Linked DNA regions of Homo sapiens. The protein of the gene in region 3 interacts with the protein of the main gene of each other region in a pairwise test. Each region holds a gene or a part of one and is shown on either strand. Other genes may lie near its edges.

Region 1 (3,674 bases), on a different chromosome or scaffold from region 3:
GGCCCATCCCTGAGACACCATCGTGCTGCCTGCCCAGTCTTCCAGTGCCCCAGGTGAAGCCCCCTTCCTCCCAGCATCCTCAAAGCCTAGAGCCGTCCCTGGAAGACAGAGCCTGCCCAGGCCCCGCTGTCCCTGACCGATGACAGATACAGGTGGGGTTTCTCAGTTCCGTTTCCTGCTGCCTCCTGGGCACTGCTCCCAGGGGTGTGTCATGGTGTGGAGTCAGCCTAGCCCTGACTGTGGGTTTGTGTGCTGCCCAGCTTAGTGGCCCAGAGCGGGGGTGCCTGGACTAGAATCTAGCTACCCCCTAACCAGCTGTGTGACCTTAACAAGTCAGGCTGTGACCGCATGTCTCTGCCTCAGTTTCCTCACCCGTAATCTGGGGGAACTGCAGTGCCCCCTAGGATCATTGTGGGAAATGGATGAGTGAGAGACACAGAAAGCCAGTCCTGAGCCTGCCCAGGATATAAAATCCCTTGTTGATGCCAATGTGGATGGAAATGTTGCACATTTATGAAAGAGTTTATGAAAGTGCTCCCCAGGAATCAAAATAAAACCAGCTTCATTTGTGAAATAAAGTAAGTGGGGCCTGAGCGCAGCTGTCCTTGAAAGACAACCCACAACGCTGGTTGTGCATCTTCAGTCCGGAGTTTATTGAGCGTGAGACCAGGCCTGACTCCTGCAGGGGCCAGGTTTTTGCGGGGACTCCATGCCTGTGGAGGCCCGACCGAGTGCAGCCTGGCGGGGTGGGCGGGCACCAGGCTGGACACCATTCAGTCCTCCTGATAGGGAACGTGGAAGCCCAGCGTGCTCCCCAGGGGGAAGTGGGCAAAGAAGGTTCGGGCCATGTCCTCGATCTGGGGGTAGGCCCCCAGGGCCTGGAAGTGCTGCACATAGTTCCAGAAGTCAGAGGTGGAGAAAGGCCAGTAGGGCATGGCCGGCAGCTCCGCGTAAGGGTCTGAAAGACACAAGACACCTGCCTTGGGGGCTGTCCCCATGGTCCTGCCTGGAGACACCATCCTCAGAGGTCTCAAGGCAAGTGGATGGTTCCCAGCTCTACCTACAGTGATACAACCTTCCCAGAGTGGGGGCCTGAGCCCATCCCCTCTCAGATCCTTGGGGATATCTGGTCGGGGAGACAGAGGAAGAAGAAGAAGGGGAAGAGAGGGAGGGAAGCCCTGTCCTGTTTGAGGAAGGAGTTGTGTGGGGAGGGTGTGGGGCACCAGCAGCCACCTGCTGGGATTTCAGAACAGAGCACAGACACCCCACTCCGCTACCCCCCGTATAACCTGTCCTAAAGCTTGGGCAAGAGCAGCCCTGAAGATACTGGACTGAGCTAGGGCTCAGAGTTGGGAGGGCCTGGGGGCTGGAACCCAGGTCTGATAGTGGGAATGTCAGGGGTCATGGGGCCCTGGCTCCCCCTGCCCAGTGTGTTCCCTGGTGGCTGGAGGGCAGGGTCCCAGCTGGAAGGAGCTCATAGACCCTCTGCTTGCACAGCTCCAAGCTGGCTCTCAAGGGCCATGTTTTCCATGCTTGGGCCTGAGCTGAGCCAGGGCCCCTGATGCGTCTGCTTGGGATAAGAAGCTGCTGCTCTCCCCAGCAGTTTCTCCCCGCTGCATACCAGTTACTTATGCAAATGAAAGGAAAGAAATTGGAGAACGGTACCTCCTTCCTCCTGCACAGGCTTGGCCCCTGCAAAGGAAGAGAAGAGCTGTCACCCAGGAGGACCACCCAGGTGCCGGTTGGGCCCACCCGACACCAGCTGCAGGGCTCTAAGGTTTCCTAGCAGCCTGGGGATGCATGCGGGAGGGGAGAGAACAGGAGGGCTGTCGGGGGTCCTGGTGGCTGCCTCCCTCCAGAGCGGCCCCTCACCTGCAAGAGGCCCCAGTAGGAGGCAGAGGGCCAGCCCCGGCACCATGCAGGCCTGCATCTTCCCGGTGCTTCCTGATCTGCGACTCAGGCCCACCTGCAGCAGGATGAACCCAGGAAGGGCGAGACCACCCATCCGTCAGGGCCGGCTTCCTCTACCAGTCCCAGTGTGGGCAGCCCTGGGGAAAATGGCATGGATTTAAAAAAAAAATTCTTACTGTTTTCCTAGCAATTTCCATTTCAGTGGTTTCAAACCACTATTTGGAGGTGAAATCCCTGCCTCAATTGGCCTTAATTCCCATGACTTAAGAAATTGCACCCCCCTCCACTCTGCCTGGCCTCTCCAGAGCTTACCTTGTCTCTGCTCAGCCAGCCGTGCTGCCTGGATGGGCTCTGCTGCCAGCTCAAGAGTCCTCTTTATAGAAGGGCTGCAGATGAGGAAGGACACGTCACCTGCCTGAACAGTCAAACTGAATATTTCATCCCCACCGGAGGACTGTGGGCTCCTGTCGCCCTGCTGGCAGGCACAATCAGAGTGTCAATTTCTGGGAATCTGATCCAAAGTTCAAACTGAGAGAAAAACATCTTGGCTCGGCCATTTCTGAAATTGTTAGGACTGAATTCAGCATTGGTACTTGAAACAAACCCAGTTTACTCTCCGCAAGGAGCGATCCTACGTCCAATACCGGGGCTGGCTGAGATTTCCTCCCTCGTGAGGAGGAGCTGAATAATTCCAGCGCTGCTTCCACTTAAACCAGCAGGCAGGAGGAGCCCCCGTCAGCGGGACCTGCCTGCAGGACGTCCACTGAGCAGAGCCCCAGCAGAAAGTGTGGGGTCAAGATGGACTTCCATCTCCAGGTGGGAGCTTCCCTGCGATCCAAAGTGTCAGTCTGTAGGTGGGCAGGAGGCTGTCCCCACCCTGGGACACCAGCAGCCAGCACCAAGGGTCTCTGTGGGCAGGGCCATTCTGACTACACAGCTGCCCCACTGACCACATCGGTTCCTATGCTGACCTGTCTTTCCAGTACATAGAGCCTCCTCCTGGTCCTGCTCCTTGGGGTCCCGCCACCCCACTGAATCAGGGGCCGAATTTGCTGTGGCGGTCTCCCCTGTCATTCCTGGTCACCCTGGGGGCTGTTTAAGGACTCTGGGAAGCTCCTCACCCATGTGTCCCATGGTTCTGGAGTTCATCACAGTCTGCTCACATGTCCCCATCCAAATGATTAAGGGCTCATTTTTCCCCACACAATGCCATACATTTAACCAAAGATACCCAGAGAGGTGGTTAATTTAATTCAGATGGTAAGGCAGCCATCCACGGATTAGATTTTGGGTTTCCTTTTCAGAAATCTGGAGCCTGTGGCTACAGGAGGCAATGGATTCTTTCAGGGCAGTTGTATTCGGGGTCACCAAGAGCACCCAGGTCAATGATTCACTAGGAAGATGCCCTAGGAGGACTCGTGGGACTCAGCATCCTCTCGAGGACCCCACGGGATGCTCTCCATTCCCCAGCACCACGTTGTGGTGACACCTGTGGAATCTCCCCATGAGGGGAGCCCTTCAGAACCTCAGAGCCCAGGGCTGGTCGTGCAGCCCCCTCTGACTCGTGCATGTGCAGATCTCCGACCCCCAGGAGGAAGCAGGTGCTTAGCACAACCATTTGTTGGCACATAGAGCTTAGGGGCAGTGGCCCCTCTGAAATCCAGGTGCCGAGGTGAGGACCCAGGCCTGCTCGTCGCCCTTCCCTGCACAGCTCAGAAGATTTCTGGTTCCTCACCTGCCCCCTGAGCTGGGAATTTAAGCTC
Region 2 (3,727 bases), on a different chromosome or scaffold from region 3:
AGGTGAGTAAATGAATAGTGAATAGGCACACAAAAATGAAAGGGTAGAATCATATTGGTAAAGGAGTCAGCGAATCAATGAACAGGACATTTCAAGACCTGTGTAAGGACAATAGACTACTGATATGAACAGGTCCATGACAATAGACTACTAATATGAAACTGGTCCACTTCAGCTTCCTTCTTAGGTCACCTTTCATCACAACCTCTCACCTCCACAATGGGGTGTGAGCTTTCCCTCCCTCGGGAGGGGACGGGTACTTGTTCTCTTTAGCAAACACACACACAAACAAAAAGCTTGAAAACAAAACAGAGAGAGACTTTGCTAAGTTCCTTTAAGATTCAGAAACTAAGCCTGGTGGACCAGCTTGAAGAGTCTTTATATGCAGAAGAGCCAATCCCCTTTCCCAATAGGACATAAGGTTTGTGCTGTGTTGAAAGGGAAAGAATGACATAGGGTTCCTAGGAGTGGAGAGCGGGGAAGGGACATAGCAACAGGACAAGCCGAGTTGGAAGTATTTCCTTCTTTGCTTTCTCACTTCAGGCTGTGCTGGGCCAGGCTGGGGCAGCAAATTGCCAAGGTCCTGAGTGCACAAATTTGAGTTCCTGCCCTTCCCCATACAATGACATACAATTCTGGAGAGAAGCCAGTGCGAGGAACAGAAGACAGAAATCTTAGGCATGGAGAATCTTTCCTGAAAAAATTGAGTTCTACCTAAAGGGACTATTTAAGTTATTGGATTGGGCTAAGGCTTAAACCAGAGTGGACATTTATTTAATTTTTCCCTCCTTCTACCCAGTGGGCGGCAGCTCTTAAGGGATATTAAGTTAAATCGACAAAATAAAGAAACTACATTTTCCCTGCATAAATAAGTTCTGTGAGTAGAATTTCCAGCCCTGCTACAGGTGCTTCACTGTCCCTTTGTGTCTGGCCATTGATTTTCTCCTTTAGCTATGATCCCAAGAACAAGAATGTGTGCCAAGCCACCTTGGTTGGTACAAAGCTAAGACTGCTTGGTGTAGTTTAAGTAAGGTGGCCATATACACTCATTCCACGGTATCCTCAGAGGATTGGTTCCAAGACCACCCTCCCTCCCCTGCCCTGTGGATACCAAAATCTGAGGATGCTCAAGTCCCTGATATAAAATGACATACAAAGATGCTCAAGTCTCTGATATAAAATGGCATTTGAGGGCCGGGTGCGGTGGCTCACCCCTGTACTCCCAGCTCTTTGGGAGGTGGAAGCAGGTGGATCACATGAGGCGGGGAGTTCAAGACCAGCCTGGCCAACATGGTGAAACCCAGTCTCTACTAAAAATACAAAAATTAGCGCACATACCAGTAATCCCAGCTACTTGGGAGGCTGAGGTAGGAGAATCGCTTCAACCTGGGATGCAGAGGTTGCAGTGAGCCAAGGTCATGCCACTGCACTCCAGCCTGGGCGATAGAGTGAGACTCTGTCTCAAATAAAATAAAATGGCATATGAGGATGATCTAGTCCCTGATATACAATGACATATAAAGATGTTCAAGTGCCTGATATAAAATGGCATATGAGGATGCTCAAGTCCCTAATATAAAATGGCATAGTATTTGCATGTAGCTTATGCGCATGCTCCTGTATCCTTTAATCTCTAGATTACTAACAACGCCTAATAATGTACTATGTAAATAGTTATTATACTGTATTATCTTTTACTCGCATTATTTTTTGTTGTTGTATTTTGTTGTTGTTGTTGTTGTTTTCTTCTTCAAGTAGTTTCCATCCAAGATTGGTTGAATCTGTGGATTTGGAACCCATGGATACAGAGGGCTGACTGTAATTTGTTGTCCAAACCAGGACACTTGAGAGTGAAAAGGGATGCCATTCATATTATTCTGGAACAGAAGACCTAAATTGGGACTGTCCCAAATAATCTGGGATATATGTCATCCAACTTCAAAGGAAGTCACAGGAGAGAGGTGGGAAACAAGGACTGTGACATCATCTTCTCCTGGGAGCCCAAGCACTTAACCAGCCACAACTAGCAAAGAGACTCTGCAATAAAGAGCACAGTGTGAACTGGAATTCGGACAATGGAAAGTTAGGACTAAATATACATATGTGTGTGTGTGTGGAGGTGTGCGCACGCATGCACATGAACCAAGGGGTAGATCTGATGTGACTACAATGAAAAAAATAACCAACAAGCTGACAAGTTGACAGCGCCCTTCCATAGCCCCAGCGAAGCCTCTTGCATGTAGGGAAGGGATTCAGAGGAGTCTAAAGACTCTGTGAAATAGACCCCCTGCCAGCCACTCCTTCTCTGTGGCCAAAACCCCCGTGGATGTCCACAGGAGAGCCAGGCCAGCTCACTGACCTGATACTGCAAGAAGGTAGAGTGATTCGTGAACACTGGTGGAGGTGGATAGTTCAGGTTGAGCCAGAGTGGCTGGTTCAGGGTTGCTGAGGTCATGGCTGTAGGAAAGTGTGGAGTGAAAACATTCCCTGTGTACTTCGGGTTGTTCTTGTCAGCAACCGTCACAGGTGCGTTAACTGCAAGTCACAGGAGAGGCAAAGCGGGTCAGTGATGGAGGCAGGGAGAGGCCAGGACACCTTCAGCATCGCAACTTCCTTAGGGATTCACAGTCTCACAGGTCAGGTCCTTTAAGCTCCAAGAGGGTTCTTCAAAGTTCTAGTACATTTCCAACTATAGGTAAACATCATTAGTTCACACCTTGCCAGTTTGGAAGGGATGAAAATCCCAGAAGGTCTGGCTTGGAGCTTTTCTTTCCATCATTCACTAGTAAAGAAGGCAATTTAGCAAGGGAATACAATAAGCCAGATTGCTAGGCCTATATTTCACCTACTTACAAAATGAAATTCTTTCAACTGCTTTGGAAAAATCCAACTTTATGTGAACCATTGCTATGCCATTGGAATTCATCCTTATCAAATGATTAAAGCAGCCCCTCCCTAAGGACATATATTTGGCAACACTAAGAAACTTTCACAGGTTGTTGTATCTATATGGGAATTTTAAAAATTATATTTTAAAACATTAAATAATTCAGCATGCAGTGACTCAAAATTGGTCTAAACAAATGAAGTTAGGTTGAGTTGTTTCAAGATCAGAATCCTGGATTCTTCCTTTCTACAAGATGTTGTGGGGGCTTATAAAATCAGAAATGGGTCCTCAGTTTCCCCTTATTGGCATCCTTTTGGGAAAAGAGGTTTGACTAGAACCCTTGTAGGAAAAGAAAGCGGGAACATAATCTCAATATAGAAATAATCTAAAGCAAGGATCTTTTGTTTTGGCTTGGGCAATTTGAGAGGATATAATACATGCTGGGTCAGGGCTATATTCAGAAGTGACCATTAATAATGCTGACGTGACCCTTGAAAGCCAACTACACTTCTCTAGCAACTGTATTCCCAACAAGGGATATGGGGAGAAAGTCATTGCCCCCATTTTATGGGTTTAAAAACTGACACCTCTAGAAAGGCAGTAGATAAGACAGCCACTTGGTGACAGAGCCACCCTGAAGCCTGTGAGGGTCACTGCAACCCCCTCCCCTCCAATCCCTCCCTGGGTAGGTCAGCTCACATTTCAGCTCCGGCCCATCCACTTCCACTTTGTTTCGAAGTCTCGGCTGCCCGCTTGGGTTCTTGGTGGCCCCAAGGAACTCATAGAGCAAGTTCTTCTCGGCTGGACATGTAGGTTTCTTGGGCGGCAGGGTCAGTGATG
Region 3 (3,224 bases):
TGATTCTGATTAATAGGCACCTTCCTCCAAGCAGCGATTCAGGGTCAGGACTCCTTTCACCTGTGGCTCTGCCATGTTCAACACGTGGCCCTCATGGTCTCTGTGAGGTCTGTATCACACCAGCAGAAGGATGACAGAGCATGGAGGAGCATGCAGGAGTTTTGGGGGACCAGGCCTCGGAGTGGCACACACATCTGCACGGTCCAGCGGCCAGAGCCCAGTCACATGCCCCACCTAATTGCAAGGGTGGCTGCATGACATCCAGCTGTGTGCCCAGGAGGAAGAAGAGCTGGTTTGTGGTCTGCCAGCCAGTTTGGGCCACAGACCCCACAGATGTCTGCCACTGGCTTCCCAGAGCTTCCTCCCAGGCCCCTCCCTCCTGTTCCACCCACTCCAGCCTTGGCCTCCCTGACTCCATCCTCCCATCCTGTCCTGAGATCCACTGCCCTGCAGCTTCATCTGGCACAGGCCAAGACCCAAGAAAAGATCAGGCCCGAGGGTCAGAGAGGCACACAGAACCAGTTTATTTCTCATGAATTTATAGGACCACAGTCAGCACAGAGCAAATGGTACAAGTGCAGATGGCTGGGGTGAGGGCGGGGGCCTCTGCTGCTGCCTTCTCTTCTCTCCAGCTGCCTGAGTACTGGCACACAGCGGGCAGTGAATCTGAGGAGCTGTGGCCTCACAGTCGCTGCAGGCTGAGCCAGAAAGGAGGGCCAGGGGAGGTAAGACTCACTCCTGCAGGAGCGGGTTGGTGATGAAGGGCTGGGGGAACTCGGGTCTCTCTGGGATGAAGTCACCCCTCCTTCCTGGCCGGTCCCCAGCCCCTCCCCACCTGGCCAGCTAGCTGGGTTCCTGCAGCAGCGGAATAGTCAGGGAGTTCCCAGCAGAAGTGCTGAATGAGGGAAAGGGAATGCCGCCAAAGGAAACCGACTCTGTCAGGGCATCTGCACAGCCCGCGAGACTCAAATGAGACCCATTGAGACCCAGGTCCCCCTTCCCTTCCCTGGCAGTTCTGATTCTGCTCCCACTGCCTGGGATTCCACCAAGAAGGCTAAAGCTGCTCTTTCTCTTTATTTGTGAAAAGCAAGCCATCTTGGGGCAGGAAAGCAGTGAAGGGACTGGGCAGGCAGGACAGAAGGCGCTGGAAGCTCAGCCATCTCACCCCCGCCTTGGCCTGCACTCACCTGAAGAAGCAGGACAGACAGAAGAGCCCCATCCTCTCCCACCTCCATACCTTTCCAGCTCATCCCACCTCTGCCACCAAAACACTCATCGCGGGGTCAGAGGGAGTGCCAAAAAAGGTAAAAAGAAACGCAAGAAAGAGGCTACTGGGGATGAGGGGACACCCAGAAGCCCCTTCCTGGAGGAAAAGCCACTCCTTCTGCAGCTGGACTCTAGGATACTGAGACCCAGCCCTGCCCCATCACCTCTCCAGTGTGGCCAAGGGGACAAGGACCAAGATGCAGGGAAGCTTGGGGAGCCTGGGCTACAACAGATACAGGCCAACAGACAGACACAGATGGATGGGGGCTGCCGGGCGGGGTCGCCTCTTACTCGCCATCCCAGCCTCGACTCATGGCCTGCACTACGGCCCCGTAGAGTTGGCTCCAGGCAGCCCGTGTGGCTGGTGTGAAGGCAGGGCCCAGACACTTCTCCAGCATGTAGAGCAGAGACTCACCCACTGTCTGCAGAGGCAAGGGGCACCTTGTCACTTCCAAAGGCAGAAAGGCACTGCTCCATTCCACAGGTGAGAAAACTGAGGCCTAGGACTGATTAGGGCTCCTGGGCCTTTTTTCCTCTCCTGCATTGAGTCCATGCTTCCTGAGCAGGGTCCTACCCAAATCCTTGGGTATCACATTGTGTCTACCTTTCCCTCTAAATGTGAGGCTTTATATCCTCACATTTTTCACCCCTGTCTTGGTCTTGCAACCACCCCATGAGTGGGGCCAAGACATTGCCTGGGACCTCCCAGCTTAGACCAAACCAAGTCATTGCTCCCAGACTTGAGTTTCCTCATCTGCAAGGCAGCAATGATGGGGTTAAGAGCCTGGGCTCTGGAGCCAGATAGACCTGAGTACAGATTCTGACTCCACCCTTCATCAGCTGGGTGACCTTGGGTAAGTTATGTAACCTCTCTGAGCCTCAGCTGCTTCATCAGTGATACAGGGAAAGTAGAAGCTCCAACTCCTGGGCCTGTTGGGATGATTAAATGGGATAATCCAGAAAAAGCTCTTAGCACAGCATCTGTATACAGGAAACCTACAATGATAATAGGCCAGGTGCAGTAGCTCACGCCTATAATCCCAGCACTTTAGGAGGCTGAGGTGGGCAGACCACTTGAGCCCAGGAGTTTGAGACCAGCCTGGTAAACATGGGAAAACTCCATCTCTACCAAAAATACAAAAATTAGCTGGGCATGGTGGTGCATGCCTGTAGTCCCAGCTATGAGGGAGGCTGAGGTGGGAGGATCACTTGAGCCTGGGAGGTTGAGGCTGCAGTGAGCTGTGATCACATCACTGTACTCCAGCCTAGGCGACAGAGCAAGATTCTGTCCCCAGAATAAATAAGTAAGTAAATAAATAAATAAAGATAATGGCTCTCATTTGCCATTATTACTCATAATAAAATAAGGTTTATTTATCTCACAAATATTAACTGAATATCCACTGTAGCCCTGGTAGATCAGGCACTATGCTGGTGCTGGGGATGGAGAGGAGGACAAGACCAACACAGCTCCTTCCTCAAGGTGCTCACCATCTGGCAAGGTGACTGGACTGTGTGGTGTACTGTCATATCAGTCGCCCCCAGTGGGCTACACCTCAAGGATTCATGCCCTTGAGTAGGGTCCTCCCACATTGACACTGGGCTTATCCATGTGAGTGGCTTTGGCCAATGGGACATTAGCAAAAGTGATGCAAGCAGAGGCTTTATAGGCACTTTCACACTGGGGCTTGTCCTCTAAAAACTCCCCCTTGGAACTCAGCTGCTATTCTATAAAGAAGCTCAGCTAGACTAGTGAATGACAACAAATCACAGGGACAGAGCTCAAAGGCTGACAGGCCTTGGACATTCTAGCCTCAGTTGAGCTCCCAGCTAAACATAACACACAAGTAACTCCAGCTACACCATGTGGAGCAGAAGAGCTGCCCAGCTGAGCCCAGCCATGAGAAATCGGAAAGCATTGTCATAGTTCTAGGGTTGTTTGATACATAGCAATAGAA

Evidence for each region.
Region 1: the proteins of NGB (region 3) and OTOS interact in a two-hybrid assay, tested with the Homo sapiens proteins (one large-scale study listed by BioGRID).
Region 2: the proteins of NGB (region 3) and C1orf94 interact in binary tests that used the Homo sapiens proteins (3 or more experiments, as listed by UniProt).

What each region holds. Positions count from the first base shown.
Region 1 is NC_000002.12:240,138,397-240,142,070, forward strand, and holds OTOS (otospiralin precursor), read right to left. Parts: upstream 2,263-3,674; 5' UTR 2,224-2,262; exon of another isoform or gene 2,109-2,223; coding exon of another isoform or gene 2,088-2,108; intron 2,049-2,087; 5' UTR 1,967-2,048; coding exon of another isoform or gene 1,931-1,966; coding exon 1,873-1,930; intron 1,693-1,872; coding exon 1,666-1,692; intron 959-1,665; coding exon 774-958; 3' UTR 630-773; downstream 1-629. UniProt on the Homo sapiens protein: May be essential for the survival of the neurosensory epithelium of the inner ear.
Region 2 is NC_000001.11:34,200,892-34,204,618, reverse strand, and holds part of C1orf94 (uncharacterized protein C1orf94), read right to left. Parts: coding exon 3,587-3,727; intron 2,536-3,586; coding exon 2,360-2,535; intron 1-2,359.
Region 3 is NC_000014.9:77,264,983-77,268,206, forward strand, and holds the end of NGB (neuroglobin), read right to left. Parts: intron 1,689-3,224; coding exon 1,554-1,688; 3' UTR 501-1,553; downstream 1-500. UniProt on the Homo sapiens protein: Monomeric globin with a bis-histidyl six-coordinate heme-iron atom through which it can bind dioxygen, carbon monoxide and nitric oxide.